Regions from separate parts of the Homo sapiens genome. Here region 1 is linked to region 2. Evidence: fine-mapped expression QTL. A gene starts in region 2. The other region holds a variant in brackets. All regions are shown on one strand. Distances are from middle to middle. Region 1 overlaps ZNF280C (zinc finger protein 280C). Region 2 holds the start of ELF4 (E74 like ETS transcription factor 4).

Region 1 (4,387 bases), 110 kb after region 2:
CATCCTGGCTAACATGGTGAAACCCCGTCTCTACTACAGATACAAAAAAAATAAAAATAAAAATAAAAATTAGCCGGGCGTGGTGGCGTGTGCCTGTAGTCCCAGCTGCTGGGGAGGCTGAGGCAGCAGAATGGCATGAACCCGGGAGGCGGAGCTTGCAGTGAGCCGAGATCATGCCACTGCACTCCAGCCTGGGTGACAGAGCAAGACTCCATCTCAAAACAAAACAAAACGAAACAAAAACAAAGCGGTATTTTTAAAAGGGCAGGACCAAATTAAAGATCATGAATTCAGAGCTGATTGAATCAAGCATGGTGTGGTAGTCTAGAACTGAGCATAGGGATACATCAAAAAGGATAAAAGATGCAAAGATAGCAAGACTAAGCATGCCTGAAGATATAAAGGATTTTAGGACAGAAACAAAGCAGCATTCAAAACAGAAGACCTTGAGGGCATGGTTGGCTACAAAATTGAATTGATACTACTGGACTAGAAAAAGGGGTCAAGACTCTGAAAGTCATGGGGTAATGAGAATTCAAAATAAGTATTGTCTACAATGAGGTAAAATGGGATGGTGTTAAGAAAGGGGATACAACAAAGCAGAAAGGGATGTAAAGTGCTAGCACTAAAGAAGTAAAGGTATCATAAGGTCAGGCTGACCACCAAAGGGAAAAAAATCCCTGCAAGCCAGGTGCTGAAGCCATCAAAAAACGTGGGTGAATCCTTCAAAGTGGTAGCTGATTATGAGCAGAAAATAATATAGAGGTCTTGTTATAATCTGCAAGAAAACAACTTTTATTGGTTATACCTATTTCTTTTTTAAAAAATAGAAATGAGGTCTTGCTATGTTGCCCAGGCTGGTCTTGAACTCCTAGGCTCAAGCAATCCTCCCTCCTTGGCCTCTTAAAGTGTTGGGATCACAGGCATGAGCCATTGTGCCTGGCTAGTTGTATCTTATTTCTAACTGAAAATAAATGGAACTATCTTAATTAGAATAATGAACTTATATCTGGAAACTTTTTGGTTATTTAAAATAAAATCCAATCTGAAGGAATAAAGCAAGCCCCTGTGAATGAGGTTCAAATGAAAGTAAGGGGGGCTCTGAAGTCTTTCCCTTGTGTAGAGTAGACCATAGGTGCTCAAATTAAGTTGAATCAATGCATGAAAAGGAATTCTAACGGTAGCATCATGACTGGAATATTCCTACAGTCTCTTATGTTTCATTGAATGAATGCAAAGATGGATGATCATAAAGACAAATGGACAGACAGATGCGGGAGACAGAGACAGGATAATGTTCTTAGCATCATTAAAAAGCCTGGAACCTCTCAAAGTGATCGCTGTGAAGAGGATAACACTCAGGAAATTACATATACAGGGGTCCCTGTATCCATGGGGGATTGGTTCTAGGACCTCCTGCAGGTATCCAAATCTGCAGAGACTCAAGTCTCTGATATAAAATGGCATAGTACTTGCACATAAACTATACATATCCTGCTGTATACTTTAAATCATCTCTAGATTTGTGAACCTATGATACCTAATACAATGTAACTGCTATTACATAGTTTTATACTGTATTGTTTAGAGAATAATGGGAAAAAGGTTTGCACATGTTCAGTAAAGACCTAATTTTTTAAAAACACTTTTATCTACAGTTGGTTGAATCCACAGATGTGGAATGCAAGAGCTGATCATATTTATTTGATAAATATATTGAAAACACTTAACATTTTATGTTAAAAAATAACCACTTTTTGAAAGACATAAAAGAAAAAAAAGTCCCATAGAAAAAACAAATTTCCCTAACAAACTCATTTTAATTTCATTAGTCTAATTGTTCTCAGAGTTTTTGTCCCAGTAATTTTATGAGTTACTATGCTGGAAAATAGTACAAGGAACATCTTAGAAGTTCCCTATTGCTAGACCCTTTTAGTTCCTTGATGAGACAAACTTGCTTTCAATAGGATAACTCTGTTTTCAAAAAACAAATGACCCAAATGGAAATTCTGATTGGCAGTTTACATGTTTAACTTACCTCATCATATGATTTACAAAGGCTTTGTTACAGTTAGTATTGTACTTGCAAAAACTGCAGTGGATGTATATAGAAAAGTGGCTTGCAAAATCTTTTATTTTGGAATGACATTCAATGCACTTGTGAATTCCCCGACGACACCTTATGGAGACGGAAAAAAAAGATAAAAAGAGATTATAAAACAAAAATAACAGGGGAAAATCTTATTAACATTTTATTAACTGAAGCCAAAATGTTTAAATTGGTATCTTTAAGTAGACTCATAATTTCAAAATTTGCTTTGAAACAAGCTAGAGTAAGTGTAAAAAATTTAACACCAGTTAACATTTCCCTGGAATAAAAGGGATCAAATAAACCAATTAATCTATCATAAGATAAAAGCACAAAATATAAGTTTAGTGTAAAAGATGAAAATTAGAGAATAAACACAATGACTCAAGTTCTGCTCAGCAG[T/G]TGTAAAAAGTACCTTTTTCTCATTTGCTTGGTCTTTATGCCAGATAAGTGATTATCATGTAAATGTGTAAGAGGGTTTTATGATATGATAAATTATATACATAAGATTAAATTTGTATTGTATATCAGGAATAAAAGATATTACCTTATGTTCTTCAAAGCAAGGCTCATTTTATTTTTTCTGTTGCGCTGTCGCTTTTGCTTGTAAGAGGGTTTTGCTTTGGACTTAGCTATACGTCCCCTTGGCTTACTTGTATTAACTTTACTTGCAGTGGATGTAGTTGCATGAAGCTTACTTGTCTTAGATCTACTGGCATTAGATTTTCTAGGATTTCTAGCAGTTGTATTTTGAGATGTCGGAGGTGTGACCTGAAGAAAAGAAGTGCCTGGAGCGCAACCGAAAGGTGCAGTTGGTAATTTTGACTGGAGAGGTCCAAGTGAAGCTCGAATAGTAACCTATAAAAACAAAGCCAATACATATTTTTAGAAAAGTAACCATCGCATTAGTATTAAAAATATCATTGTAAGCCGTAAATATCACATTTACGGTAAACTGGCAAGGGTCCCAAAACATTTCCAATGGGGCAAAAAATAGTCTTGATGAATGCTGCTACAAAAACTGATATCCATGTGCAAAAGAATGAATTTGAACCCTTACCTCATATTATATACAAAAATTATCTCAAAATGTATTAAAGACCAAATTCTAAAAGGTAAAACTATAAAACTCTTAGAAGAAAATACAGTAGTAAATTCTTGTGAGCATGAGTTAGGCAACGGTTTCTTATATATGACACCAAAAGCACAAGCAACCAAAGAGAAAATAGATGAATAGGCATTTCTTCAAAGAAGATATACAAACGGCCAATAAGCACACAAAGAGATGGTCCACGTCATTAGTCACCAGGGAAATGCAAATGAAATCCCAAATGAGATGTCCCTTCACCAACCAGAATGGCTATAATAAACAGACAATAACAAGTATTGGCTAGGACATAGAGAAATGCGAACCCTCATACATTGCTGGTGGGAATGCACAACAGTGTAGTTACAATGAAAAACAGTTTGGCAGGCTGGGTGTGGTGGCTTAGGCCTGTACTCCCTGAACTTTGGGAGGCCGAGGTGGGCGGATCACTTGAGGTAAGGAGTTTGAGACCAGCCTGGCCAACATGGTGAAACTCCATTTCTTTTAAAAATACAAAAAATTAGCCAGGCATGGTGGCAGGTACCTGTAATCCCAGCTACTCGGGAGGCTGAGGCAGGAAAATTGCTTGAACCCAGGAGGCGGAGGTTGCAGTGTGCCAAGATCGCACCACTGCACTCCAGCCTGGGCAACACGGCAAGACTCCGTCTCAAAAACAAAACAAAACAAAAGAACAAAAAAAGAAAAACAGTTTGGCAGTTTCTTAAAATATTAAAGGTAAGAGTTACCATTTGACTCAGCCATTCTACTCAGAGGTATATACCCATGAGAAATGAAAACATACGTTCACACAAAAACCTGTACATGAATTTTTACAGCACCATTATAGCCAAAAAGAGGAAACAACCCATATGCCCACCAATAGATGAAAGGATAAAATGTAGAATATCTATACAGTGGAGTATTACTCAGCCACAAAAAAGAATGAAGTACTGAAACATGGTACAATATCAATGAACCTACAAAACATTATGCTAAGCGAAAGAAACCAGTCCCTAAAGATGGCATATTGTATGACTCAATTTATATGAAACGTCCAGAATAGGAAAATCCATAGACACTAAAAGCAGACTAAAGTTTGCACAGGTCTAATGGAGGGGAAATAGTGAATGCTAAAGGGTATGAGGTTTCTTTTGAGGGTGATAAAAATGTTTTAAAATTTATTGTAGTGATGTTTGCCCAAATCTGAATAT
Region 2 (4,387 bases):
ATCACCTGAGGTCAGGAGTTCGAGGCCAGCCTGACCAACACGGAGAAACCCCGTCTCTACCAAAAATACAAAATTAGCCGGGCGTGGTGGTACATGCCTGTAATCCCAGCTACTCGGGAGGCTGAGGCAGGAGAATCACTTGAACCTGGGAGGCGGAGGTTGCGGCGAGCCAAGATCGTGCCATTGCACTCCAGCCTGGGCAACAAGAGTGAAACTCCATCTCAAAAAAAAAAAAAGAACTGGAGGTAAGGAGTTCAAGATTACAGTGAGCTGTGACTGTGCCACTGCACTCCAGCCTGGGTGACAAAGTGAGACCCTGAATTAAAAAACAAAAACCAAAAAAAAAACAACACTCTAAACGCAAAAACAAAAACTGGATGTAAAATTACATTGCGGGGGTAGGGGATGTGGAAAGGAAGAAGGCCAAGCTTAAGAGCAGAAGAGCAGAGGTTTCCCCAGGAAAGCAAACTCCTCAGCCTGTGTCTAGCTGGGTCTGTGCGGCACAGGGCCTGATTTTTGCAAGATGAGGGGCATTTTGGACATGCTATCACTCAGGCCCCTAGAGACAGACCACAGCACCCTCTATTTTAGATCCCAATATATGCCAGAGAAGACAGAAGCCACTGTGTCACCACTTAGCACTAGGTGAGGGAGAGTGAATTTTGGGCCCCTAGGTTGTCCAGGGGTGGGCGCCAGTTCCTGAGCAACCACCGAGCAAACAGTGCAGCACAGGGAGGAATGCCAGACATAGTTGCAAACAAGCCACTCCTTCGGCTCACAGCAAGAGGCTGGGTGAGGGTGGTAGCATGGAGCCTGCTTCATGGTCCCCCCCACCCCTGCCCCCAACAAGAGATCCCAGGCTCTGAATCCAGCCCCAAAAACAACCAGATGCAAGGTAGCCTCTTCCTCACACCAGCTGGCTGGGATAGGAAGTCCTCCCTGATAATCTTCACTGAACTCCAGAGAGCTCCCCCTACGCTGCTCCTGTACTGGATGCACTGAATCTGAATTAATGGTTGAGAAAGCACTTTATAACCAGGAAAACCCAGTGTAACTAACTGCAAGGAAGGACTGGCATTCTTGCTGGGCATATGTGTTCCCCGGGCATTTTCAGTGCCAAAGTCTCCCCAAAGGGAAGAGCTAGAACTGTTCCCTTCACCCACCTCCAACCTGGCACTCGGGCCAGGGGTCAGCTGGCAGGGGGTGAGTCCCCAATGGGCGTGCCCACCAGCTGTTGGGGCTGAGCAGTGGTGGTTCAGGCCCTGGGGTGGTGACCTCACTTCCGCTCCTACCTCCCCACCTCCCCAGCACTCCTCCCATTTGAGGCCCCACCAGGCCAAAATCGAGAAGTCCAAGGTTAACTGTTCTTTCCCACTTTAAGAGCTAATTAAAATAATTAGCCACAATGAACTGTCAAACATTAACCAGAAGAGGCTGCAGGACCAGACAGGCCTCTATCACAGGCCGAGGGATGAGGGGCAGGAATCAAATGGCCATCAAATCCCTCAGCTGGGGTATGGTGCGGGGCGGGGGCGGCCCAGGAGGACCTCGCTGAGCCGAGGTGCCAAGGGGTCAGGAGGTGACTCTGGTCAGGAAGGTGATGTGCAGGCATACGGTGGTGAGAAAAGGGAGTCAGGGTTAGGGTGCGGTGGAGGAGCCAGGAATTCATAAAGCGGTCACCGCCTCAGCAGTCCCTCAAGCCTCCAAAGCAAGGCGCTGGCGTGAGGGGACCCCGCACGGTGCGGCTGCTGAATCCCCTAGGCGGCGGCCCAGGAGGGAACCCGGAGGCGGGAGAGTCGGGGAGAGCGGGAACGCGGGAGCGGGAAGGCTGGCGGCTGGCTCACACGGAAACTCCGGCCCCTGCCAAGAGGTCTCTATTTTGGCGATCCAGTTCTCCACATCATAGGTCTGCGTGCGCGTGTGTGCGTGTGACCCTAAAGCCCTGGCCCCAGAAGCCCCGGGGGCAGTCGGATCCATCTAGCAGCTCCGCCGCGGTCCGCCCCACCTCCTCTGCCCTCGGGCGCCCAGCTTCTGGGGGCCCGCTGTCATGATCGGCCCCGTCACGGAACCCAGGCTGCCGGGGGCGAGGGAAAACAGGGGCCCCTACCCCGACTCCCCGACTCGGGGAATCCATTCCACTTCCATCCCGGGATCGGGAGCCCGGGTTCTCCATCACACGCGCGGCGGGGCGACTCCAGGGCGGCTCGCGACACTCCGCGACTCTCCCGCCCTTCCCTGGGCCCCCAGCCCCACGCCGGGGCCCCGGCGCTCTCGATTCCGCCCTCAAGCAAACTTTTCCACGTCCCCCAAGGCTCGAAGAACCGGCGCCATCGACGTACCTGAGGCCGAGTGGCTCACGGGCCCAGCTCGGTCGCCGGGCCGGGGTCTGTCTCCGTGGTCCCCGCTCCGGGGGCCGAGACGCGGGTCCCCAGCCCCGCCAGCCCGTCCTCTCCCCTCGGAAGCCGGGCCGGGCGAGCGGCGCCAGGAACTCGGCGCCGGCGAAAGGAGAAGTGGAAGTTGAGCGCGGCGCCCGGTCGGTCCCCGCGGCCGCCGGGGCCGCCGTCCCCCGCCCTCCTCCCCGCCCGCCCTTCTTCCCCGCCCGCCTGCCCCCGCCACCCCGCGCCCGTGACTCACCTCGGCGCCGGGGCAGGCTGGTCCGGGCGGGCGAGGCGCAGGGCTCTCCCACACTTCGCGCCGCCAATGGCAAGTTGGAGGGAGAGATGCAAATACCAGGTGAGACGGCGGCGCCCCTGATAAAACGGGGCGGGGGGCGGGGTGGAGCGCGCGGGGAGCGGGGCGGACGCCGGGGAGGGCCGGGCCAAGACACGGGGCGGCAGGGGCGCCCGGGGAGGGGGCGCGAACCGGCGCAGACATGCACCGAAACGAGCGAGCGAAAGGGGAAATGCAGTAGAGACACACACGTCCCCGCAGGCGGCGGATGGGGCGGGCGCGAAGGAGGCAGGGCGGGAGGGAGGGAAGAGCCGGAGGGAGGGACCGACGGGAGGGACTGCGGGCGGGCGGGGTGGGGGAGGGAACGAGGGAGGGACGAGGCATCTCGGTGGAAACAGCGCCCGTCCGCCCCGGCCCGCCCGCCGCGGTCGCCAGCACGGCATGGGGAGCCGTGCCAGGGGCCCGCGCGGCCTCTCATTCCCCTCGCGGCTCGCTCGCGCCCGGGGGACCACGAGGCAGGGCGCCCGCAGAGCCCGCGTCGTGCGCCGCGGCCCGGGCGGGCGCTCCCCACTCTGCTTCTAGCCAGCGAGACTCCGAGCTCTCTGCTCGTTCCGCGCCCTTCCCGGTGCGAAGCCCCCATACAACGCCCCGCAGAGAAATCCCTTCCCCGCGGACTCGGGAAGGTTTCGTCCAGCCCCCTCGGCCCGTGCAAGTGGAGACTTGCTTGACGCCTTTGGGCCAAGCCCTGCGCTCCACATTATTGAGCTCCTGGGGTGTGCAGGCCCCAGCGGGAGGGCGGGCCGTGCGGCGGGTGAGGCCGCGAGATGCCCAGAGGATACAATTTTGGAACCATATGCCCGACTCCGCAGAATCCTGGGCGTAACACCTGGGGTGACTGGAGAGTTTCGGCGACTTCTTAGGGAAGTCGAGTCTAGGACTCCTGCGGGAAGTTGGGGTGGGGGACGCTGGCAAGATATGAGTCAGGGGAAGGGCTAGGGGGAGAGGGGCTGGCCCAGCAAGTGCAAAGAGAGCCAGAGTTCGGGTGCTGGAAGAAAGCCCATGCCTACCTTTCTTCCCCTGTCCAAAGCCAGGCTGCTCTGCTCCACGCGCCCACTTGAAAGCCACTCAGGCACGCTCCCCTTCTATCTCCCCTTTGCCCTCTCTGACCTGCCTCAACATCAATACCGCCGCCTACGTGGGTCTGCTGATAGGAGGCTCTGGAGAGAGTGCGCTGGGAATTGTTACTCTGTATAGTTCCACGTGGCCTTTTTGGGGGTGGGGGCAGCAAGGCCTAAGCCTTGGCAGAAAGCATCAAGACTGAAGGAGCCCCAGGGGATGGGGCCTTCTAAAGGGCTTGAGGTTGAAGGACCTACTCAGCCTCCAGCATCGGCCTGCTTCTCCTGCCTTGGGAAAGGATCATCTCAGGCGCAGGACTGGGGGACAGGAGTGGTGGTGGATGATGGCCACAAAGGCAGCTGCAGATTACAAGTTCCCAAGGAAAGATCCTGTGGCTGGACTGGGGCGCCGGCCCCTGAGACCTCCTGGATACTCAGAATCAAGTCCCCAAAACAAGCACTTTGTCTTTTCCAAGCGGGCATGCTTTTCCCAGGGGATTCCAGATCCTGGAGACACACAGTTCTCTGCTGGCCTCTCATCCACGAGGTCCCCTCTCAAATTTGGGGTAGGTTCCGGATGTCCCTAAGCCCTCTTTACCTTG

The links. PIP is the estimated chance that this variant, and not a neighbour inherited with it, causes the effect. A credible set is the group of variants that fine-mapping cannot tell apart.
Region 1: its variant is the best candidate, but not a certain one, in a credible set for the expression of ELF4 in whole blood (TOPMed, PIP 0.53).

Annotation. Positions count from the first base shown.
Region 1 is chrX:130,213,155-130,217,541 of GRCh38, forward strand. It overlaps ZNF280C (zinc finger protein 280C), which reads right to left. Exons shown (of 19, transcript NM_017666.5): 14 at 2,637-2,947; 15 at 2,039-2,179. Among named protein-coding and RNA genes, the nearest start is that of RAB33A, 43 kb to the left of the region's middle. The variant T/G (reference allele first, on the strand shown) is at 2,492.
Region 2 is chrX:130,107,986-130,112,372 of GRCh38, forward strand. ELF4 (E74 like ETS transcription factor 4) reads right to left here and starts at 2,512. Exons shown (of 9, transcript NM_001421.4): 1 at 2,340-2,512. It also overlaps a transcript of RAB33A not described here. RefSeq lists silencers at 2,394-2,463, 2,544-2,693, 2,944-2,993, 3,004-3,053, 3,124-3,243.